Regions from separate parts of the Homo sapiens genome. Here regions 2, 3 and 4 are each linked to region 1. The links come from fine-mapping of genetic effects on gene expression. A gene starts in region 1. Each other region holds a variant in brackets. All regions are shown on one strand. Distances are between the middles of the regions.

Region 1 (7,487 bases):
GCCTGCAGGCTGCGGTAGTGCTCGCTCTGCGGGCCGCCCCTGAGGCGCTCCATGATCCGCAGCTTGGAGACCACGTCCTTGGAGATGAATGAGAAGATGGTGCCCAGGCTGTTCAGAAACCTGTGGAAGGGAGCGGGGCTCGAGTCCTCGCCCAGGCCTGGGGCAGCCCGCCTGGGGTGCAGGGGACGCTGCCCAGCCTGCGGGGGCTCACACCCATCTGGAAACGGGCAGCAAAGCTGGTGGGGACAGGCAGTCGGGAGGCAGATGCCACATATGGGACTCGGGCCAGGGGAGCGCCCACCTCAGGAGGCAGCCCTGGCACACGCACCTGACCAGGCCCTTCCAGCTGGCAATGTAGGGGTCCAGCAAGACCTCTTCCTTCTCATCGAGACACTGCTTGAAACTGACCAGGACGACTTTCAGATTGAAACCTGTCTCCGAGTCATCCATTTTTTGATAGGAACGGAAATACAGTAGGGCTGGGGGGCTGTGTCGCTGGGGTCAGCTTGCTCTGTGGCTCATTTTCTGTGTGTGGAGGGGAACAAAATAGCTGCGATCCCATTGCCGCTCACTGAACACTCATGCCCCTCATGGAGCTTCCTCCCAGGAGCTGCCTGGCTCTGCTCCCAGCCAAGCCGCAGGCTCTCAGGCACACCACCCTGACCCACCCTTCATCAGGATTGCGCATTCAGGGACCTTGGCACAGCCCCTCCTGTGGATCAGGCCACTGACTCCGTGTCAGTCCCTGACCCCGAGAGTGGCCCCCTCTGGCTTTATCAGACCACTAGGCCCCGCTGTCTGCAGCAGGTGTCTCTGCTGGTGCTTTCTTGTTTTTGTTTCTCTCTCTAGATGCTGTATCTGCTTTTACCAGCTGGAGAAATACTAAGCCCCTGCCGAGAGCCAAGCACCATCCTAGCCATCTATCTGGGTGCATGGGGAGTGCGAGCAGCCATCTGGGGTGGGGTCAGATGACAACAAAGACAGGAAGTTCTGAAGTCCTAGACAAGAAAACAGACACAGCAGAAAGCAGAGACAGGTGGGGCCGGGGGTGGGGGGATGCTGCCGGGCAGGCTGCCCCATCTTCCTCACTGCTACATCCCCAAAAGCAGAAAAGAGGCTGTAGGGCTGGCACTTGCTGGATGGATGGACACGTGTTTTCACTCCTGTTGCTGAAACTCCATGTCCCACACAGATGGGTTTTACCACTCAGAAGATTGCCACGAGGCTCTTGTACTAGCCCTAGGGAGCCTTCCACGAGTGGCCCAGGCCCTGCTTTGGATTCTGCTGGCATTCACATAGTCACTCCACAGATCCACAGACATCCAGGCACCCATGCTTTGTGTGAGTGTTGCCAAGCACCCTTGCCCTGTCTCCCCGGGTGCCCCACGGGCCCGCACCTGCTCTGGGGAACCTGAGAGTCAGCTGCATTCCACCTCGACCAGGAAGAGGGCCTGGGGGTTCCTAGGCCGGTTGGTGCTGGGAGCCCTGTCCTGGCCTCCCTGGCTGCAGGGACTCCATCGGTGGGGGAGGGGGAAGGGCACCCAGCCGTGGTGAGAGCTCCTGGCCAGGAGCAGGTGGGCAGGTTGCTCAGCACCCTAGGACTGGGCCCTTCATCACTAGGGATCATGGGCTGCAAGCCCTGCCCAGCCCGTGGCCCAGGCTGCTGGAGCACTGGTGCCTGCAGGGTGCTGAAGCCTGGCGTTGCAGGCCCCACAGGTTGGGTTGCATGCTTGGCACCAGGCGGAGGCCCCAGATGTGAGCTCACCGGGCTTCAGGTGTGGGGGATGGCTGCTCCTGGGCCTCAGAAAGATGCAGTCCCATAGACTTCCAGCACGCCCCTCCCCTCCTCGGGCCTTAATTTTGTCCACTGAGAAGATGGTCTCTGAGGCTCTGGGGTTTCCTTCTTGGTCACCAGATATTCTGCGGGCCTTGCCTTCCTGCCCAGATTCGAGCCAGTGGCAAACAGAAGCTGCCAGGAGCTTCTCAGAGCTGTGGCTGGTGGCTCGGTAACAACAGGAAGGGCAGTGGCTGTGCAGGAGGCAGGCAGCTTGCCAGCCCAGGAAGGTGACCCAGGACACCTCCAGGCCTTTCCCAGGGCAGCCCAACGGCCCAAGGTCAGGGCCGGGCGCGAGGGCGGCCTGAGCACAGAGCACGGGGGCTGACAGCAGGCTGGGGGGCCAGCAGGAGACGGGGCCCCACGGCGCCCCAGGCCTTGTGGGTGGGACCAGACCCTGTCGAGCGAGCGCTACGAGTCTCACCTGGGAAGGGGGCTTCAGATGGCACCGGACTGGATGGGCACCGGTTCGGGTCCCTGCTCCACCGAGAGGCCCAGGAAGGGGCGGAGGCCCGGGGTGGTGTTGGGGAGGGGCCGACCTGAGCCACGGCTCCGTCCTGCGCGGGAGCCGGGTCCTCGGCCGCCCGCCCGCTCCGGCCCTCTAGGACGACGTCCCCTCCCGCTCCCGGCCCCTCGGCGACTTCCGGACCGTGCGGGTTGGGTTGGGCAGGTGCGGCCGCCGAGTCCGAGCCGCTCACCTAGGCCGTAGCCGCCGTGCGGGCCCCGTCCCCGCCCACCGCCCCGCCCTCGCCCCGCCCTCGCCCGCCGCCCTGATTGGTTGGATGCTGCCCAATCAGGAGGCCCGGCGCCCCGACCCGCGTTTCCGGCTAGCGCACCGGAAGTTGCAGCGAGGTGGTTGCGCCTGCGCAGTGCATCACCGCAGGCGGGCCTCGCGGGTCCGGGAGCGCGGCGGAGACGATGCCTGAGATCAGAGTCACGCCCTTGGGTGAGTGGGAGCCGCCGGGAGGGCTGTGGGGTGGGCTCCGTATGCGGCTCCGGGCGGGCTGGGCGCCCCGCTCCCTCCCGTTTCTCGTGGAGCCAGGTGCGCGCCGCGGGCGTCCTCCGGTCTCCTCCCCGCGCGGGCCCTGGTGGGAGCCGAGAGGCGGCCTAGTCCCTGCACCCCGGGCCTCCGGCAGTGACGCGAGAACGCGAGCCCCGAGGTTCAGGCGGCCGTGAGGGGACGTCGCAGATGGGGCCGCGGGGCCTTCGCGCTCGCTGTGCGCTTTCGTCGGTGCCTTGACCTCCCCGTGCCGCGCGCTGCCGCCTCCAGCCCTACCAGCCCTTCAGTCCCTTAGCCCCTCAGCCCCGCAGACCCTCAGCCCCCCAGCTCCCCAGCCTCTCAGCCTCCCAGCCCCTCAGCCCCCCAGCCCCTCAGCCCCCCAGCCCCCCAGCCCCTCAGCCCCGCAGACCCTCAGCCCCCCAGCTCCCCAGCCTCTCAGCCTCCCAGCCCCTCAGCCCCTCAGTCCCTCAGCCCCCCAGCCCCCCAGCGCTCCAGTCCCCCAGACCCTCAGCCCAGCAGACCCTCAGTCCCCCAGCCCCTCAGTCCCCCAGCCCCTCAGCCCAGCAGACCCCCAGACCCTCAGCCCCCCAGCCCCTCAGCCCCCCAGTCCCCCAGCCCCCAAGCCCCTTAACCCCGCAAGCCCCTCAGCCCCCCAGCCCCGCTTCTGCCTCCTCACGTCTTGCTTTCTGTCCACCACTCTGTGTGCTCACGCCCGAGTTACAATCAACTCTCACTTTAGCTCTTGTTCTACCTGATTTCTGCAACACTGAAAAAAATAGCAAAAAACGCAAATATGTACTCCTAAAAGTCCTGACAGTCTGGGCACTGTGGCTCACGCCTGCAATCACAGCACTTTGGAAGGCAGAGGTGGGAGGATCGCTTGAGCCCAGGAGTTCAAGACCAACCTAGCCAACATGGCAAGACCCCATCACTCCAAAAAAAAAAAATGCTAAAATTGGCAGGGCGTGGTGGTGTGTGCCTGTGGTTCAAGCTACTTGGGAGGCTGAGTTGTGAGGATTGCTTGAGCCCAGGAGGTTGAGGCTGCAGTGAGCCATGATTGTGCCACTGCACTCCAGCCTGGGTGACAGCAAAACCATGTCTCAAAAGAAAGTCAAAGTCGTAACAGTATAGAACGATGTGAAGAAGGAAAAAATTAGTCAAAATCCAGGGTCTCAGAAACAGCTGGAGGGACATGGTGTTGGTGGCCAGTCATCCTGATGTCCTTAGCGTTTTCCACAGGTGCCTGCCCTGTGCTGTCCTGGAACCTGGTCCTTCCACCGGGCAGGGGGTCGAGGGCACCTTCCAGCACAGACACCAGGACGGGATTCCATGTCCTCCCCCATGGCGTGAGCGCTTCCTCGGAGGGTGCCCCCCGCCCCGGTGTGGACACTGTGCTGTGAACACCCCTGGCCTGTGCACACCCCATGGCATTTTGCAGCTGTTTGCATGGGCCCCACTGCCCTCCCCTGCTCTCTGGGTCCTCCGTGGGGTCCTCCCAGCCTGCCCCTTTCCCATTTGGCCTCTTGGCTGCCTGTTCTGCCCACTCTCTGGACATCTGATCTTTCTGATCTTTCATGTGGCTTCAATTACCCGCAATCTGTACCTGGGTATATTCTCAAGGTCACCTCAGCCAAGGTATCATCAAAGCCGAAGTCCTGTTTCACCGCTTCCCTGCACCAGGGACTGCCTCGGGCTCCGTGTCCGCGCTCACTGGACCACTGCTGTGTCCTTGGGGTCACTCCCACGCCTTGGCCTGTGTGTGGCTACCCCCCCCGCCGCCGGTCCCCCTACCCACCCTGCCCATCCCTCCCCACCGCCGGTCCCCCCACCCACCCTGCCCGTCCCTCCCCCTGCTGGTCCCTTCCCTCCCCCCTGCCTGTCCCTCCCTGCTGCCTGTCCTCCCTCCGCCCGCCCCGCTTCTTCTCCTCCCCTGGACCATCCCTTCCCCACCCCGTCCCTCCCCCTCCCCCACCCTACCCCTCCCCTCCCCTGCTCAAAAGTTGGCTTCTCGGAGCAGTCTCCTGTCATGGTTCTGGAAGTTTTGAGGCTTCCTCATTCTCTCACCTTGCTCTTTTCTGTCATAGTAACCTTCGTCTGGCGTGCTTTGGGTGTCTTGTTTGTCTGCCGTCTGTCTCCTTGCTGACAGGGATATCTCCTCCTGTCTTCTGAGCCCTGTCCCCTCGTGTATCTCCAGGCTCTATTCCCGCACCTTTCCACTTTCCTTCCTGGGATCACTGTGGGTCCTGTCGGGAGGCGGGACTGCCAGTACTTCAGGACTGGGCTTTGGAATTCAGAAAACCAGCCCGGGCCCCATGCCTCGGGGCCGTGTGCCACAAGTGCCTCTGTGGCCTTAGGTCCCTGGGCATGAAGAGGGGCGGCCCTCCCTTCCCACAGGTGCCAGAGGGCCTCTGTGAGCCTGGCGTGGCTTGGGGTAGGAGATGCAGAGGGAGGAGACAGCTGAGACCCTGCTCTCAGAGAGCTCACACCCAGCGGGGGCAGGAACAGGCCTGGAAGAGAACCTGAGATCCCCTCTCTGTGGCAGGCAGCCCCTCGGCTGTGGCCCCGTCATCCTGATGTGTGGTGCTGGCTTTGGACACTTCGAGTGGCTGGCAGGGGGAGGTGGGTGGGATTCAAGGGGAAAACTGTTCACTGCCATCAGACTCCTGCCCAGGCACAGTCTGTGCAGGGGCCGTGACCCTTTCCTCTCGGGCCCCCAGGCCACATGAGGGGGCTGAGTGTGCCTTGGCTGGCCAAGGCCTCTGGCTGGAGCAGCTGGGCAGGGCTGCTTGGCTGTCAGGAGTGTGGGAGGGCTGCAGATGAGGGTCTGTGTTGGGGGCTGCATGGTGTGCAGTGGTGTGAGGCTCGTGTTGCCACGCTGGCCACTGCTGGACCACTGGCACCGTGTTCGCTATGGCATGGCTGAGGCTGTGTGGCGCCCCTCCACAGCCGCACCACCAGAGAACACCCAGTGCCAGCACTTAGTCACTTACTGCCTTGCCTGCCTGGGGAAAGATCCTGGAGAAGGTGGCCTCATTGGTTTGCAGCTCTGCTGGGGGTCCAGCCACAGCCCAGGAGTGACTCTGACCGAGGTGTTGGCCCCACAGACCAGCCGTTGTCTCTGTTGGAGGCTGAGGGCCACAGCACAGTGCCCACTACTTAGCCAGCAGGCCGTGGCCACCTTAAGAGGCCAGGGGAAGCTGGCGGGGGAGGGCGTGTGGGCTGCCAGCCTCCACCCTGGACATGATGGTGTGGGGCATGGTCCCCTGTGTCCCCCTTCCTGTGAGTAGGGGTGGCCCTGCTTCTTGGCCCATGTGTCTGTCCACACAGCAGACTTGGTCCGGTTTCCTCAGTGCACTGGGGTCCTGCAGAGCTTGGGGAGGCAGCACAGGGGGCGGGGGGCGCAGCAGTGACTCATCTGCCCTCCCTCGAGTAGGGGCCGGCCAGGACGTGGGCCGAAGCTGCATCCTGGTCTCCATTGCGGGCAAGAATGTCATGCTGGACTGTGGAATGCACATGGGCTTCAATGACGACGTGAGTCCCTTGGGCAGGAGGCCCAGAGGCTGGGAGAGCCGGCCATCCACAGCTGGACCCTGGGCCTCAGAGCCGGGACAGTGGGGTGGTGGGCAGCAGTGGTTGTGCTTGGATGGCTGCACCCTGTGGGGAGCAGGGATGGGTGGGCCTGGCCGAGGTGAGCCCCTGCATGGTGGGGTCCCCCTGTGCTGGCGCTGAGCCCCAGCCCCGGGGTCCTGTAGGCTGGACTCCGTGAGACCCTGGGCTCAGCTTCCAGCTCACATCTGTCAGTGAGGTTGGGGGTAACCTCGGCCCCTCCGGATGCTGTGAGCAGCCAGGGGTCCTGGTGCCACCTGCGGGATGGGAGTGCCCAGCCTGAGTCTGCACATAGAACCCCCCTTCCTGGGGGCCCCTCCCTGGGGCATGGGTGGCCCCAGATGCTGCCTGGAGACCACTGTGCAACCTGAAACCCCCACATCCTTCCTAGCGACGCTTCCCTGACTTCTCCTACATCACCCAGAACGGCCGCCTAACAGACTTCCTGGACTGTGTGATCATTAGGTGGGTTCCTGTTGGGGGCCTTGAGGGTCCCATGTCTGTGCCTGTGGGGCTTGGGCCACCTTGCTTGGTCTCGGCAGCGTTTGGCAAGGGGCCTGTGCCATCCTTGATCCTCAGGGGGCTTCTAGGCCCCAGGATCTGCTCCCTGCCTGCCTTACTGGTCACACACATGGCCTGGTCTCTGTCTGTTCTTCCGGCCCTGCCCTCTGAACCCTACTTTCTGAACCCGGCCCTCCAGGCTTCACCCTCTCTGATGCCTTCACTGTCTCAGGATCTTTAAACCCCACTGTCTTGTTGGCGATTCCAGAGTCCCGAGTCTGCCCTGACCCCAGCCTTTAGGGTTCAGCAGCTCATGACCCGCTGGTCTGGGTGGCCTCGTCTGGACGGCCACAGCACTCCTGCTGGCCCCCTGCCCTTCCCTGCCCTGTCCTCCCCAGCAGCCAGGCCCGTGAAGCCTGGAGAAGCCCCTTCTCCTCTCCGGAGGCAGTGTCCTCAGCTGCCCCTGAGCCCCTCGTGGTTGTGGTTTCTTCTCAGACACGGTGGGGTCCCCAGTGCCTTCCTGGGGCTTGCCAGGCGCTGCCCTTG
Region 2 (5,000 bases), 35 kb after region 1:
CTCTGTGGGACCTGTGGGGTCTGCCTGGCTGTCCACACCCCCACCCCACCACTTTGGGGACTCACAGCTGACTTGGCGGAAGGCCACCTGGAGGTCCCAGTGGAGAGCTTGAATGCAGACTCCCTGGAAGAGACAGCCGGGTGTCACCTGCCACGCTACCTGGGGCAATGATCCCTGGCCGCGACCCCAACACCCCCGTCTCACCTGCAGGGCCTGGGGCAGCGGGAGGTACAGGGGAGCCGGTGGGTCTCCAGGTCCTGGTAGAGGCGGTAGAAGCAGTGTCCTTGGGGAGGGGTCAGAGGCATGTGTGAGGCTCGCTGTGACCCCCCGGCTAATGGCTGACAGAGTGGGAGGCAGCGAGCAGGACTCACCCCAGGCAGGGTGCCGGGCAGAGCTGCAGTACTCAGCCCCCGCCGGCAGAGGGTGGAGGTAGTAGCCACAGGAGCAGGTCTCCACCATCAGCTGCTGGAAGCAGGACACCAGGCAGGCCTGGGGACAGGGGGGATGAGCAGGGACATGGGATGGAGCGGAGACATGGGGGACGGGGCAGAGACACGGGACGGAGCAGGGACACGGGACGGAGCAGGGACACGGGACGGAGCAGAGACACGGGACGGAGCAGAGACACGGGGGACGGAGCAGAGACACGGGACGGAGCAGAGACACGGGACGGAGCAGAGACACGGGACGGAGCAGAGACACGGGACGGAGCAGGGACACGGGACGGAGCAGAGACACGGGACGGAGCAGGGACACGGGACGGAGCAGGGACACGGGACGGAGCAGACACGGGGGACGGAGCAGAGACACGGGACGGAGCAGAGACACGGGGGACGGGGCAGAGACACGGGACGGAGCAGAGACACGGGACGGAGCAGAGACACGGGACGGAGCAGAGACTCGGGGGACGGACACGGGACGGGGCAGAGACACGGGGGACGGAGCAGAGACACGGGACGGAGCAGGGACACGGGGGACGGAGCAGAGACACGGGACGGAGCAGAGACACGGGGGACGGAGCAGAGACACGGGGGACGGAGCAGGGACACGGGACGGAGCAGAGACACGGGACGGAGCAGAGACTCGGGGGACGGAGCAGGGACACGGGACGGAGCAGAGACACGGGACGGAGCAGAGACACGGGACGGAGCAGAGACACGGGACGGAGCAGAGACACGGGACGGAGCAGGGACACGGGACGGAGCAGGGACACGGGACGGAGCAGGGACACGGGACGGAGCAGACACGGGGGACGGAGCAGAGACACGGGACGGAGCAGAGACACGGGGGACGGGGCAGAGACACGGGACGGAGCAGAGACACGGGGGACGGAGCAGAGACACGGGACGGAGCAGAGACACGGGGGACGGAGCAGAGACACGGGACGGAGCAGAGACACGGGGGACGGAGCAGAGACACGGGGGACGGAGCAGGGACACGGGACGGGGCAGAGACACGGGACGGGGCAGGGACACGGGACGGAGCAGGGACACGGGGGACGGAGCAGAGACACGGGACGGAGCAGAGACACGGGGGACGGAGCAGAGACACGGGACGGAGCAGAGACACGGGGGACGGAGCAGAGACACGGGGGACGGAGCAGGGACACGGGACGGGGCAGAGACACGGGACGGAGCAGGGACACGGGACGGAGCAGGGACACGGGGGACGGAGCAGAGACTCGGGGGACGGAGCAGAGACACGGGACGGAGCAGAGACTCGGGGGACGGAGCAGGGACACGGGACGGAGCAGAGACACGGGACGGAGCAGAGACACGGGACGGAGCAGAGACACGGGACGGAGCAGAGACTCGGGGGACGGAACAGGGACACGGGGGACGGAGCAGAGACACGGGACGGAGCAGGGACACGGGACGGAGCAGAGACACGGGACGGAGCAGAGACACGGGACGGAGCAGAGACACGGGACGGAGCAGAGACTCGGGGGACGGAACAGGGACACGGGGGACGGAGCAGAGACACGGGACGGAGCAGGGACACGGGACGGAGCAGAGACACGGGACGGAGCAGAGACACGGGACGGAGCAGAGACTCGGGGGACGGAGCAGGGACACGGGACGGAGCAGAGACACGGGACGGAGCAGAGACACGGGACGGGGCAGAGACACGGGGGACGGAGCAGAGACACGGGGGACGGAGCAGAGACACGGGACGGAGCAGAGACACGGGGGACGGAGCAGAGACACGGGGGACGGAGCAGAGACACGGGACGGAGCAGGGACACGGGACGGGGCAGAGACACGGGACGGAGCAGAGACACGGGACGGAGCAGAGACACGGGGGACGGAGCAGAGACACGGGACGGAGCAGGGACACGGGACGGAGCAGGGACACGGGACGGAGCAGGGACACGGGACGGAGCAGGGACACGGGACGGAGCAGAGACACGGGGGACGGGGCAGAGACACGGGACGGAGCAGGGACACGGGACGGAGCAGACACGGGACGGAGCAGAGACTCGGGGGACGGAGCAG[A/G]GACACGGGACGGAGCAGAGACACGGGACGGAGCAGAGACACGGGACGGAGCAGAGACACAGGGAATGGAGCGGGGACACGGGGGATGGAGTGCGGGCCTCCACGGGGACTGCCCCGTTCCCAGGCCCTCTAGTACTCTCCCAGACCCCTCCCCCGTTCCACCCGCCCACACCCCCTGGCCAGCCCAGCCTCACCTGCCCCCGCACCCCCTGCCAGCCCAGCCTCACCTGCCTGGTGTAGGAGGTGTTGTGTAGCAGCTCCACCTCCACGCCTTCCCCGCCGGCGGTGCAGTGGCCGTAGGGGCTCCCGAGCCGGTGCACCTCGTCCTGGGAGGGGACGCTTCAGTTCCATGGGCCCTGCCCTCACCCCCCAAAGCCCAGGTTGGGCAGGAGGCCTGGGCCGGAGGTTGGCTGCAGAGGCCAGCTCACCTCTCGGATGCTGATGGTGGCCTCCGTCCCTGGCCGGACGCTGAAGCTGTGGTGCCCCAGGAAGGGCGTGTGGTTACGGCCGTGAACCATGACCCTGATGCCGGCCAGCGTGGACAGCAGAGGGAGGTGAGGCTGCTGCTCAACCCTGAGGACCAGGCCGACTCCTGGGAGGCCAAGGGCTGGTGTGAGGCCACCTGACCTGCACCCCTGCCCCCGCACCGGCCAGGGGCTGGCACCCACCGTGGGTGATGCCGGGGCGCTGAGCTGTCCAGACGCCATCGACCGTGTAGCAGCTGCCGTAGGTGGGGTGGTGGAAGGTCCGGAACTGTCTGGAATGAGAAGCCAAGCTCAGACCTTGAATGTCGGCTGCCCGCGCCCGTCACGCTGGCCTGAGGGGCCATGGCCTGCCCTGTGTCTGCGGAAAGTTCCTCCGGCCAGCCTTGGGTGGCTCCCAGCATACAGCCAGAGGGACCCCAGGGGTGCGGCCACGCTCTGTGGGGTGGGACGGAAGGAGTGGCCCCCGCCCGCCACACTCACCGGGCCTGGCAGTCCAGGCCATCGTAACTGCAGGAGAGGACGAAGTGGCCGTCCTGGCTCCCGTGGCTGTCCTCCCATGCCGCGGGCAGCAGGGCCAGGATATCCACATAGTGGAAGTGGTACCAGTCCTGGACAGCCGCCACGCCTGACGTGTAGCCTCGGTAAAAGCAGTCGCCGCCCGTGCTGTTGCACTGGGAGAGGGGAGGGAGGGTCAGCTCTGTGGCTACAGCCCAGGCCCCGCTCCCCACTCGAGGTACCAGCAGCGCAGGGCCGTGCTCCCAGCTCAAGGCCCTGATGGCTGCAGGCCCCGGCTGGGACACTCACCAGTCTGAACCCCACTCTGACCCGGCTGCCCGAGTGGCTCAGCCTCTGCAGACGGATCTCCCGGTCCAGGTGGAAGGGGGGCTCGTGGCGGGGGACAGTGGCGGAGAGGGCGGCTCTGCCTTTGCTGAGGTTGACGTTGTACAGGGAGTCAATGTTCTCCCTGGCAAACTCGTCCAGCAGCTCCAGATGGCGGAGGACCGGACTCGGCCTGGGACGCAGGGCCCTGGAGTCAGAGTTGCCGGCCCGGGGCCTCACACTGGCCCCAGCATCCCAGTGTGTGCTGTCGGGACAGCAGTGCCTCCCCTACTCGGGACGCCCAGTGGGGTGAGCTGGACCCAGAGCTGGAGTTGGAGGCCGTGGCTGCCGGTGAGGTCGGCCCCGGAGCCCAGCCCGCTCGCAGCCCCTCCCACCTTCCCTCCTTCTGGAAAGCCTCGCCCACCCCCACCTCTCCTCCCAGGCTCCCGAGGGCCCTGGTGTCCCTCCAGGGGGCAGTGACCACACTGAGCCCCCTCCTTGGCAGTCCGAGAGGTCCGGGCTGGGCACCGAGGTTTGGGAGGTCACAGTGACCAGGAGGGTGGCATTGACCACACAGAGCCCCCTCCTCGGCTACAGGGGCCAGTGGGGCTTCGGTTAGAGACGGTCACAGGGGCAAGGAGCTGGGGCGGCCACCCCTCCCGCCGACAGCCCTGGCCCTCACCGACGTGGGTTCCCGTCACACAGGGTGACCAGCGGGAGCAGCTTGCGCTCCGAGTGCACAGAGACGGCCATGAGGACCGGGCGGTGCCAGTGACGCTCAAAGAGGAGCCCCAGCTGCCAGCAGAGCGCGACCAGGGCTCCCAGGGACAGCAGCCCCCAGGACGTCGTCTTGAGGCGGTTCCCGCGGGAGCAGACCAGGCGGATGGCGCCGTGGATGGTGGCATTGGTGCAGAAGAAGGTGAGCAGCTCCCGGAACGAGGCGGGCAGCTCCACCAGCCCCTCCTGGTGCCCCTCCTTGGGTGGTGGTGGTGGTGCTGATGGTGGCCCCGGCCTGGGGGGCGTCTGGGCTGCAGCCTGTGTGCAGAGTGGCCTCAGCAGGGCCCGGCCTGCACCCACTCAGGCCTCCCTACCCTGGGCCTGTCATGTCTGTCAGCCACCAGTGCCCCGCCCTACCTGCTCGGTCGCTCGGACAAGCCCCTCCCAGGGTGCTCTGACACTGCGCCCTTCTCCCCGGATACAC
Region 3 (6,356 bases), 93 kb before region 1:
CACCGGGGCAGCTGGAGCCAGGCTGGGGGACGGTGTCCAGGCACGAAGGCCCTGAGCGCGCCCCCGGCTGTGCCCCTCCGGTGTAGCCCCGTCCCGTGGAGACCAGGGCGGGATCCGAGGCCCGGGGCTCGGCTTCATGCTGGTGGCAGCAACAGACTCTCCGCCAGCGCCGGGCCTGTGCCTGAGACCCCCGTTCCTGGGCAGCGGGCAGGGTGTTGGCTGCAGATCCTTGGATTTGCTCTAAGGACTCTTAGGGGGAAAAGTGGACGTTTCCAAGCAGGCCAGCCTTGGGTTCGGCCTCACAACATGAGGAAGTGGTGTCAGGAGAGACAGGCCGCTGCGGGGACAGAAGAGGCCTGGGCTGGGCAAACGCCTGGTGGCTCTGCCCCTCGCCTACCGGGCTGAGGCCGGCCCCTGCTTTTCTCTCCTCTTCTAGGACATTGAGGTGCTGCTGGGCCACGGGGCAGACCCAGGCATCAGGGACAGGCATGGCCGCTCTGCGCTGCACAGGGCTGCCGCCCGAGGACACCTGCTTGCCGTCCAGTTGCTGGTCACCCAGGGGGCCGAGGTGGATGCGCGGGACACCCTGGGCCTCACACCCCTGCATCACGCCTCTCGGGAAGGCCACGTGGAGGTTGCCGGCTGCCTGCTGGACAGGGGTGCCCAGGTGGATGCTACCGGCTGGCTCCGAAAGACCCCCCTACACCTGGCTGCAGAGCGAGGGCATGGGCCTACCGTGGGGCTTCTGCTGAGCCGAGGGGCCAGCCCCACTCTGCGGACGCAGTGGGCCGAGGTGGCCCAGATGCCTGAGGGGGACCTGCCCCAGGCGCTGCCTGAACTTGGAGGGGGGGAGAAGGAGTGTGAGGGCATAGAGTCCACGGGCTGAGCCAGACAGCAGGCTCCAGGCTCCACCGCCCCAGTGATTTCCAGGCTCTCTGGCTGAGGCTGCCTGCCTGGAGGGGACATCAGGGAAGAGGCTTCCGGAGGAGGGGATGGGAGAAAGTAGGGGATGTGGCTTGAGCTGCAGTCACAGGCCTTGGCTGGACCAGGGATGGCCCCCAGCTCCCAGGAGGGCCCACTGACCCTGCAGCTCCAGCCTTCTCCATACTTCAACAAAGAATGAGTTGTGGCAATGAGGGAAGAGAGACCCTCTCATAGTGTTTTATACTCAGTACCTGTTTTAAGAAAAAACAACAAGGAAGTAAAACCAAAGACAGGCAGGCAGCCTGGCGCTAGGCCCGAAACCAGGCCTGCGCCTGCCTGGCCTAAACCCAGTAGTTGAAAATCAATTCATAACTTAGAAACCGATGTTATTCATAGATTCCAGACATTGTATAGAAGAACATTTGTGAAACTCCCTGCCGTGTTCTGTTTCTCTCTGACCGCCGGTGCATGCAGCCCCTGTCACGTACCGCCTGCTTGCTCAAATCAATGACGACCCTTTCATGTGAAATCTTCGGTGTTGTGAGCCCTTAAAAGGGACAGAAATTGTGCACTTGGGGAGCTCGGATTTTAAGGCAGTAGCTTGCCGATGCTCCCAGCTGAATAAAGCCCTTCCTTCTACAACTGGGTGTCTGAGAGGTTTTGTCTGCGGCTCGTCCTGCTACATTTCTTGGTTCCCTGACTGGGAAACGAGGTAACTGACAGACGACCGAGGCAGCCCCTTAGGCGGCTTAGGCCTGCCCCGTGGAGCATCCCTGCGGGGGACTCCGGCCAGCCTGAGTGACGTGAGCTAAAGAGCGCTCCCGGGTAGGAAATTGCCTCGGTGGAACACCTCGCCAGAGCAGCCCATAACGGGCCCCCATGGTGGATTAACACAGTGGCTGAACACCGGGAAGGAACTGGCACTTGGAGTCCGGACATCTGAAACCTGGTAAGACTAGTCTTTGGAACTTGCCCCACTCCACCTGAGTAGACGCGTGGCCTGATCGCCCACGGCGTGCCTGCATTAGCACCTTTGTTCTGGTTTTGACTTGACTGAGATCATGTGATACTTTGGTTTTGGTTTTGACCTGGCTTGGATTTCTGGATACTCTGATTTTGGTTTTGATTTTGGTTTGGTGTAAACTGCAAAAGTGTGTGTGTGCCCTTTTTACCTGTTTTTTGTTTTGTGGTGTGAGCGTGGTGTTTTGTCTTGAAGAAGCGTGGGTCAGGCACAGATAAGCCCACCCCACTAGGAACTATGTTAAAAAAAATTTTTCAAGAAAGAATTTAAGGGAGATTACGGTGTTACTCTGACACCAGGAAAACTTACAACTTTGTGTGAAATAGACTTGTCAGCATTAGAGGTGGGTTGGCCATCAGAAGGAAGCCTGGACAGGTCCCTTGTTTCAAAGGTATGACACAAGGTAACGTGTAAGCCAAGGCACCCAGGCCAGTTTCCGTACATGGACAGTTAGAGCAGGTTTTAGACCCCCTCCCCCCTACGGTAGTTAAGAGAACAGCAGCATAAGCGGCTGGCAGAGGCAAGGAAAGACCAGCAGAGAGAAAAAGAGGCCATCTATACCAATTCTAAGTTAATTTAGACTAAACAAGGTCTTATTAATAGCAAAGGATAATTGAAATCCCAAACTTCCAAGGTTTTCAACAAAAGCGAAGTTTGCTAAAAGTTAACAGTGTAACATGTTAATGGTAACTTTTAATCTTGTGGCCTCAGACAGTCTAGTCCAAAGACATAAAAAAAGTTCGCTTTAAAAAAGAAAAAAAAAGGGGAGGCTGAATTTATGTGAAAAGCATGTTATACGGTAAATTCTTGTCCTGAAATATATTAACTGGTTGTTTAAAAGTTTGTAATAAGGCAGAAAGTTGAGATATGTTGAAGAATTGT[C/G]GGCGAAAGTTGTAAAACAAAATGTTATAAAAAATTTATGCAAAAAATGTTGTATAATTTAAAAGTAATAAGGCCTCCTGAGTACTATTTTTTTTTTTTTTTTTTTTGAGACGGAGTCTCACTCTGTTGCCCAGGCTGGAGTGCAGTGGCGTGATCTCGGCTCACTGCAAGCTCCGCCTCCCGGGTTCACGCCATTCTCCTGCCTCAGCCTCCCGAGTAGCTGGGACTACAGGCGCCCGCCACCACGCCTGGCTAATTTTTTGTATTTTTAGTAGAGACGGGGTTTCACCGTGTTAGCCAAGATGGTCTCGATCTCCTGACCGCGTGATCCGCCCGCCTCGGCCCCCCAAAGTGCTGGGATTACAGGCGTGAGCCACCGCGCCTGGCCCCTGAGTACTATTAAAAAAAAAAGTTTATGTGCAAGGTGTACAAGAAAAGTAAAATATACCTTTGGTAAAAAAAATTATAAAGGGGCATAAAAATATGGATTTTTACCTACATTAAAAGGTTAAAAAAATTATTGTTTTTAAGAGTTTAAGCAAGTTTTAAAATGTAAATTGTAAAGAAAATTCTGTGTGTAAACATGTTAACTAAAGTTAAAAAGGTATCGTCCAGTTTTTCTGTGAACTGGACATTAAAGTAAAAATGCAACAGGTTTTTCTTAAAGCATCAACCTGCTCTTTAACAAAAGTTATAAAAGGTTAAAAAGAGTCTATAAAATCTTACCTTATGGTCAAACATGAAAAATTGGATAAATATGTCTACAAGGTTTTATTAAAATTAAGTTTAACATTAATAACACACTAATATAAAGGTAAAATTTAGCTTATCTGGTATAAAAATCATACAAGAAGCATTATTAAATATAAAATGGTGTTTAGCTTTCTTTGGTCTAAAAACTAATAAAAATAGGTGCTAAAGGAAACATTCATTTTACTAGAGGATCATGGAAGTTTAAGACTTAAAACAAACTTTGGCAATTAAGACAGCATACCAAGATGCAAAATGCCTGGTTGAAATGGATCAGATATTCCATCTGATGTTAAACAAAAGCAATTGTGATGCTCGTGCACATGGCAGGCCAAAGGCTCTGATTGTCCCCCTTCCACTAAGGTGGTCCTTCAGTCGACCAGGCGTGGGCTGCACGGTAGCTCTTTTCCAGGATTCTACAGCCTGGAGCAGCAAGTCATGCCAAGCTCTCCCCGCTACATTCTGCAGTCCCTGCGGGTCAGCCCCCGAGGGCCATCCAGCTTCCGTCTCCCAAAACTAAGTTCCCTTCGTGTCTCTCACGGCAGGGAGGAGACTTAGCAGTCCTTGGAGACTGGAAGGGATGCAGTGAGCTTAAGAATTTTCGAGAGCTTATCAATCAGTCAGCCCTTGTTCATCCCTGAGCGGATGTGAGCGGATGTGTGGTGGTATTGTGGTGGACCTGTACTGGGCACTCTGCCGAATAACTAGAGTGGCACTTGTGCTTTAGTCCGTTTGGCTATCCCTTTCACCCTGGCATTTCATCAACCAGAGGAGAAAAAAAAAAAAAGACATCGTAAAGCGAGAGAAGCCCCTTATGGGTCTTTCAACTCTCACATCTATTTAGACGCAATTGGAGCCCCACAAGGGACACCAGATCAATTTAAAGCTTGAAATCAAATAGTTACAGGATTTAAGTCAATATTTTGGTAGATGACAGTCAATAAAAATGTAGATTAGATAAACTACATCCATTCCAACCAACAGCAACGAGCTTTTCATGAGTCAAAAAGAAAAACTCATGTCAGCCCCAGCCCCGAGGCTACCTGACCTGACAAAACTCTTTACACTCTATGTGTCAGAAAGAGAAAAAATAGCAGTTGGAGTTTTAACCCAGACCGTAGAGCCCTGGCCAAGGCCAGTGGCCTATCTCTCAAAACAACTAGACGGGGTTTCCAAAGGCTGCCCCCCTGTCCAAGGGCCCTGGCAGCAACGGCCCTGTTAGCACAAGAAGCAGATAAGCTAACTCTTAGGCAAAACCTAAAGTCCCCCCATGCTGTGGTGACTTTAATAAATACCAAAGGACATCATTAGCTAATGAATTCTAGACTAACTAGATACCAAAGCTTGCTCTGTGAAAATCCCCACATAACCACTGAAGTTTGCAAAACCCTAAACCCTGCCACCTTGCTCCCAGTATCAGAGAGCTCAGTGAAACTTAACTGTGTAGAAGTGTTGGACTCAGTTTATTCTAGGGGGCCCAACCACCGAGACCATCTTTAAACATCAGTAGACTCGAGCTGTACGTGGACGGGAGCAGCTTCGCCAACCCCTGCAAAGTGACTCTGAAGAAGACGACAAGCCCTGCTCCAGTCACACCCGGAAGCTGACTGGTCCACGTACAGCCGAAGCATGAGGAAACTCATCGCGGGACTCATTTTCCTTAAAATTTGGACTTGTACAGTAAGGACTTCAACTGACCTTCCTCAGACTGAGAACTGTTTCCAGTATATACATCAAGTCACTGAGGTAAGACAAAAGATTGCTACAGTCCTATTATTTTATGGTTATTGTAAGTGTACCAGGATTCTAAAAGAAACTTGTTTGTATGATGCTATTCTATCCAAGGTATGCAGCCCAGGAAATAACCAAACTGATGCGTGTTATGACCCATTTTAAGCCTCCCATGATCACAGGACTGGTCCTTTTCTAGGTGACACAAGTAAGTTAATAGCTAGAACAGAAGAAAGAGGGGTCCCCAAAAATGTAACCTTAAAATTTGAGGCTGGTGCCGCTATTAATAGTTAGCAGCATGGAATAGGATGCAGTTCTCTAAATTGGAAAAAAAGTTACACAGTAAAAAAAAAATAAGTATATCTGTCAAGAATCACATTTATGTGAGATGTGTCAATACTGGTCTTGTGTCATTTGGGCTACTTGGAAAGAAGATAAAAAAGATCCTGTTTGGCTCCAAAAAGGAAAAGTCAGCCCCTCCTGCACGAGTGGGAGCTACAACCTTTTAGAATTGATAATCACAAACCCTTCAGACCCAAAGTGGAATAAAAAAAAGTGTTAACATTAGGCATTGACAGAAAAGGCTTAGATCCTAGCGTAAGCATCCTAATAGAAGGAGAGGTTCAATAACGCTCTCCACAACCATATTGCAGACTTTCTATGATGAACTAAATGTGTCAGTACCTGAGATTCCAGCAAAAACTAAAACTTTGTTTTTGCAATTAGCCGAACATGGAGCCCAGTCTCTACAAGTCACCTCTAGCTGTGTTTGCGGAGGAACCGTAACAGGAGATCAGCGGCCATGGGAAGCCCGAGAATTAGTTCCTACAGACCCAGTTCCTGATGAATTCCCAGCCCAAAAGAACCACCCTGACAATTTTTGAGTTCTAAAAGTCTCAATTATTGGACAGTATTGCATAGCTTGAGAAGGAAAAGGATTCACTCATCCTGTAGGGCGGCTTGGTTGTCTTGGGCAAAAGCTGTATAACGGTACCACAAAAACAGTTACATGGTGGAGTTCCAATTACACAGAAAGAAATCCATTCAG
Region 4 (5,000 bases), 380 kb after region 1:
AACGCTCTGCCCGGACCCGAACCTAGAGCTGAACACAGTGCTTGGCACTCTCGGGGCGCGTGCTGGTGGCTGAGAGCGCGGGGGTGCGGGCGGCACCCCAGAAACAAGCAGAGAACGGCAGCCACCCCAGTACCTCTCCGAGAAGGACGGGGCGGCAGCTGGGGCGGCGCCCTCCCGGTGCTGAGCCAGGCCCTGCTTCCGACGCTGACCTGCCGTGGAGGAGGGCAGGTGGGCTTCCAGGCCACTGGGGCCCCTCAGAGCTGCAGCCGCCACCTCCTGCCGGACCCTCAGGAGATCTGGGTGGGGGACAACAGCAGTGATCCCCCCGGCTATGCGCCCTCATCCTCCCCAGCCCGCGTCCTGGCGTAGAACACTGAGGTGGGGAACTGACCACACCACTCGGCCGTGCTCGGCCCCTGGGCTGGTCTCGGGCACGGGGCAGGAGGATGGGCGGCCACAGGGCCGAGACGGCAGACAAGATGCTGGGCGAGGAAGTGTCGGGAAAAGCTCTTCCCCGAAGGGGAGCCGGGTGCCTGGAGGCTTCCGGCCTGAGAGGCGGCTGAGCCTTGCGGGGAGGGGGCTGTGCAGACGTCCCGAGGCCACAGAGCCTGCGGGGCAGCGAGAGAGTCCAGAAGTGCCAGCCAGGGGCTGACCGCCCAGGGGACCCCCTCTTCGGTGGGAGGCAAGAAAATCTGAGGTCCCCATAGTAGACGCGGCTGGCCAAAGCTTGTCACAAAGGCAAGGCAGCGCCCGCGCACGCACGCCACACTAGCACAGGGGTCGCCCAGTCCCGGCTGCGCAGGGTCACTGTCCCGCGTGGCCACACTCGCCCCAATGCGCACGCAGCGCCCGCGTCTAAGGCGCCGCGTCCCAGGTCTCTCGGCCTCTCCCTCCCGCCCGGGCCTCCCGAGTCCCCGCAGCCCCCACTATGCAGGCTCCGCCAGCTCCACCGCCGCCTCTGTTTATAAATTAATTACCCGAAAGCGGAGGTGGGTCCCGCCCCGGGCCGGGTGCCAGCCCGCAGAGCCCAGCCGGCGCGGCCGCCCGCATCGATCCCAGCGGGGCCCAGCGCCCCCGCGCTAGCGGCCGGGTTAGTTACAGGGTTATTTACGGCCGGCTCCGCGGCGGGGCGGGGGGGGGGGGCGGCGGCGCGGCCTGATTGACAGCGCGCTCCCCGGCGGCCGGCGCCCCTCCCCCGCGCGGCCAGCAGAGCGGCCCCAGGCAGAGCAGGGAAAGCAATTAAAAAGGAGGATTTTTACATTATTAACATTTGGTGAATTATTCAGGCTCTTGGTGCCTGAGCTGCCCTGGGGGACGGTGCCTGGTGTGAGGAATCCTGCCTCCTTTCCCGGCGCCCCCACCCACCTCTAGCCCGAAAAGCCAAGCTCCCCTGCCAGGCGGGCGGCTGGGGCCTGGGAGGCTGAGTGCAGCGGGCAGGGGGTCCGAGTGCATCCCGGAGGGACCCCTGGAGAACGTCCTGAGGTGGGGTGGACAGGGTCAGGGCCGACCCGGGGGAAGGGGCAGCCCCTCCAGCTGGCGTCTCTTCAGCACCTGGGGAGTCCTGGTGGCCAAGTGCCCACTGCACCCAGCCCGGCCTTTCTGCTCACTGCCCCTCCCCAGGCTCCTGGGGCAGGCGTCTGGCAGGTCGGCGTCCACTGGCTGCATAGACGACTCACAGACCACAGGGTCCAGGAGCTTGCTCTCCTCGGGGGGTGCTGCTGACATGCCCACTGCCCACCCTCACCTGGGTCCACCCCAGACTCCATTTCTCTCTATATAAAATGTGAGCTAGTCATGACCCTGGGGACCTAGGGGACATGGAGGTGTGGCCCGCCCCAGGGGGCATGGGGCAGGACGTGTGGCAGAGGGACCTGCATCCAGCCTGGCCTTGGTGTCAGCAGGGCCTCAGCAACAGGAATGGCCGAGTACATGTGGCTGGGGAGGTGATGAGGGGAGATCATGCCAGGGTGGGTCCTCACCGTGGCTGGGGAGGTGATGAGGGGGATCATGCCAGGGTGGGTCCTCACCGTGGCTGGGGAGGCCCAGGTGGTAGAGGCGCTGAGGGTCCTCAAAGGTGCTGGCCTCGCTCAGTGCTGACACAAGCCGGCGGTAATGGTCCTCCGGGGCCATGCTGGGCCCCAGCTCCCGCGGCAGCAGCAGCGCCTCTGCTGGGGAGGACCCGGGGTGAGAGGTTTCTCCAGGCACTGCCGAGGACCACGCCCCTCTAGAGTGCCTGCTCGAGGTCCAGGGGACCCTCAGGGACTGCCCCCTCCCCTGGTGACCTGTCTCTCGTCCCAGCCACGCTCTTACCTTGAGGCGATTCGCTTCGTGCCCTCTTCTCTGAAAAGCAGTCGCTGCTGATACGGGGGGAGCGGCCCAGCCTCTTGCCCAACAGGTCACCTGCGGGAGGGTAGTGAGTGCCCACCTGCATCTCAAGGAATGGAAGGGGAACCCAGCCCCTGCTCCAGCTCAGCCTGGACCGCACCCACCATCTCTCAGGGGGCCCTTGGTCCTGGTGAGTACAGGCCTTGCCCAGCCCTGGCAGCCCCAGCCTTCAGCGCAGAGGACATCACGCCTGGCTGTGGCGGGACAGGGGCACAGGGGAGCTCTGACACTGGCCCTGGTGCGTGTGTGCAGAAGAGATCCACAGCAGGCACCCAGCTGCCCCACCCGCCATCTAGCCTCTTGTGCAAGTTAACGAGCCCCCCTCTCATCCCCCTAGAGGAGAATAAAAAGCTTTTGGTTTGACCAGGCACCACCTTCCCCTCCTGGACAGGAGTGAGGGCGGGCTGTGCAGGGTCACATGCCAGCGTGGGGTGAGACAAGCCGGGAAGGACCTCACACCTGACCTCTTGCTGCTCTGTGAGTCACTGGGCTGTGGGCCCCCCAGGCCGCCTCGAGGCGCCTCCACTCCCAGGCCTCCTACTTGGTCATACCCATCCCTGCCCCCAGAAGGCCCA[C/A]GTCCTCCTCTCTGGCCCAGTCCTGCCTGAGCTAGCACCCTGGCGTGGCTGTCATGCCCTTGTCCACCAGCCCAGCCAGGCTCTGGGCTTCTGGGGTGCACCTCCCAGTAGCTTCACCCACCTCCTCAGCCACGAGGCCAGCCCAGCCCTAGCCCCAAACACAGCCCAGCAGGTGGCAGAGGGGAGGCCCAGGCCAGGTCCAGCTTCAGCCCCAAACACAGCCCAGCAGGTGGCAGAGGGGAGGCCCAGGCCAGGCCCAGCTCACTCTCCTGAGGTCCTCCCTTGGGTCCTGCCGACCGCACCCATTCCAGACCACACCATCCATGTACCCATCTCCGACCCACCCCGAGCTCCTCCGAAGCCCCTGACTCCACGCCCTGGGGGTCTCCCAGGCCAGCCAGTGCCTCCGACTCTGGCCCTTCCTCATCCTCATGAGGGCTCTAGCTGGGTGGAGTGAGGGGCCACTCCCCTGTGACCCAAGACCTCCATGAGGCCTAGGCAGTGGGGCTCCCAAGCCCGTCCCCCCACAAGCCCTGCCGTCAGCTCCAGGCCTAATTCCTTTTTCTTATTCCCTTAATCTGTCATTTTTATCAGGCTGGGGAAGTGCGGCGGCCACACCGATCAATCCCACATTACAGCTGACAGAGTGGTGCTAATAACTTATTGATCCTGGCCCGGCTGCTGTCAGGCCCGGCCCCAGAGAGAGGGTCAGTCCCACGGTCTGGTCCAGGGTCCCCACCTCGGTGACAGATCGGGTGGCTGGGCCCGGCGGGCGGCGGGGGGCACCTGGCCACACACGGATCCAGGCACCACTGCTCAGGCCCCTGAGAAGCCATCGTCTCCCCCACAGCCTCCCGTGCCAGAGCTCGGTGGGCTGGGAGGGGGTGGGCCAAGGCTGGGGGAACCTGGCTCTTTTCCACACCTGCCACCTGGCCCACCATGCACATGCCCTCAGGGTTAGCAAGGCCTCTCACCTCCTGGCAATCACTTTTCCATTGTACACAGTGGAAACTACCCTCTCCGTTCTGTGGGGGGCTAAGGCCTCCTCCTAGCCTGGGGGAGGTGACTGGGTGGGGGGGGGGGCAGGTGGAAGGGGGCCTGCAATGAGACCGCAGGAAGGCCGATGAGGCCATGCTCACTCCTCACTCATGGACCCCAGCGGGTCTCACAGAGGCAGATGCAGGACCTGCTCTGAGTCCCTCACAGCCCAGGGCCCAGGGAGGTGCGGCTTAGCGGGAGGGCCCGGGCTGGGAACAGGATGGATGTGTGGTTCCTGGGGTCACAGGAAGGGAGAAGAGGTGAACGCCCCCCAGGGTGAATGCCCCTCCAAGAGGAGGCTCCGGGGAGCGGGCCAGACCCTGACACGGAGTGCGTATGGGAGACCTGGACACGGGTCCAGGACACGTGAGGCCCCGTAGAGCCTGTGAGCCCGGAAGTGCACGAACACGTCCTGACTCCATGGGTGAGAGCTGCCGGGCAACCCCCATCACGTGCACCCCACAGGACCCCAGACACAGACATGCCGGCACACGCACACGCGTGTACCTGAGGAGGTCTCCCTGTGTGAAGGCACAGGGGAGGGCCTGCTGGCTCAGAATATCTCAATCATTGTGGGGCTCCCTCCGCTCTGCTGGATCGATGGGGCAATTAGATTTTATCAACCGCCTCTCAGCTGTCTCCAACGCGGCATCAGAAGCTGCCCCCACCCAGCCCCACAAGGGCCTTCCTAGGTGCACGAGGACGCGGATGGGGGCCATGGATGGGGGACACAGATGGGGGTGGGCCTCCCCCACCCCTCCTTCCCAAGAGATGCAGGCCCTGCTGGGAACACCCCTGCCTGGGGTCCACAGGGCCTCGGGGCGCCCCCGCCTCCTTTCACGGCCTGCCCTGGGGCTGAGGCTCTGCTGTGCCCCTCTCTACAGCAGTGCCCTCTGAGGGGGGCCTGGTCCCCCCACAACTGTGACCAGGCAGCAGCACCTCCCTCAGGCGCCGGATCCCTTCCCTCCCGAGAACCCCATCCTTCCCGGAGCCCTAGAAGGC

Direction of the effects. Alleles are on the strand shown, and positions count from the first base shown. SD is a standard deviation of normalised expression in the study named. Not every link is listed here.
For the expression in testis of the gene that starts at base 2,559 in region 1, allele C in region 4 goes with a higher level than allele A (moderate effect, 0.42 SD a copy in GTEx).

What was found. PIP is the estimated chance that this variant, and not a neighbour inherited with it, causes the effect.
Region 2: its variant is fine-mapped to the expression of CPTP in whole blood (INTERVAL, PIP above 0.99).
Region 3: its variant is fine-mapped to the expression of CPTP in whole blood (TOPMed, PIP above 0.99).
Region 4: its variant is fine-mapped to the expression of CPTP in testis (GTEx, PIP 0.92).

Annotation. Positions count from the first base shown.
Region 1 is chr1:1,319,874-1,327,360 of GRCh38, reverse strand. It overlaps CPTP (ceramide-1-phosphate transfer protein), which reads right to left and starts at 2,559. Exons shown (of 3, transcript NM_001029885.2): 1 at 2,259-2,559; 2 at 329-525; 3 at 1-120. The coding sequence starts at 450. INTS11 (integrator complex subunit 11) reads left to right here and starts at 2,701. Exons shown (of 17, transcript NM_017871.6): 1 at 2,701-2,780; 2 at 6,268-6,365; 3 at 6,832-6,905. The coding sequence starts at 2,753. RefSeq lists silencers at 2,103-2,602, 2,783-2,912 and enhancers at 3,731-4,240, 5,004-5,512.
Region 2 is chr1:1,285,760-1,290,759 of GRCh38, reverse strand. SCNN1D (sodium channel epithelial 1 subunit delta) reads right to left here. Exons shown (of 18, transcript NM_001130413.4): 7 at 4,482-4,834; 8 at 3,785-3,992; 9 at 3,461-3,651; 10 at 3,164-3,252; 11 at 2,924-3,087; 12 at 2,723-2,821; 13 at 372-489; 14 at 205-283; 15 at 66-123. Among named protein-coding and RNA genes, the nearest start is that of SCNN1D, 7.8 kb to the right of the region's middle. RefSeq lists enhancers at 832-1,404, 1,677-2,223, 2,224-2,771. The variant A/G (reference allele first, on the strand shown) is at 2,496.
Region 3 is chr1:1,413,630-1,419,985 of GRCh38, reverse strand. ANKRD65 (ankyrin repeat domain 65) reads left to right here. Exons shown (of 4, transcript NM_001145210.3): 4 at 437-1,566. The coding sequence ends at 886. Among named protein-coding and RNA genes, the nearest start is that of ANKRD65-AS1, 3.4 kb to the left of the region's middle. RefSeq lists enhancers at 1,041-1,490, 1,658-1,737. The variant C/G (reference allele first, on the strand shown) is at 2,828.
Region 4 is chr1:936,440-941,439 of GRCh38, reverse strand. SAMD11 (sterile alpha motif domain containing 11) reads right to left here. Exons shown (of 14, transcript NM_001385641.1): 6 at 2,311-2,400; 7 at 2,028-2,165; 8 at 134-296. Among named protein-coding and RNA genes, the nearest start is that of SAMD11, 15 kb to the right of the region's middle. RefSeq lists a silencer at 3,018-3,067 and an enhancer at 2,794-3,505. The variant C/A (reference allele first, on the strand shown) is at 2,961.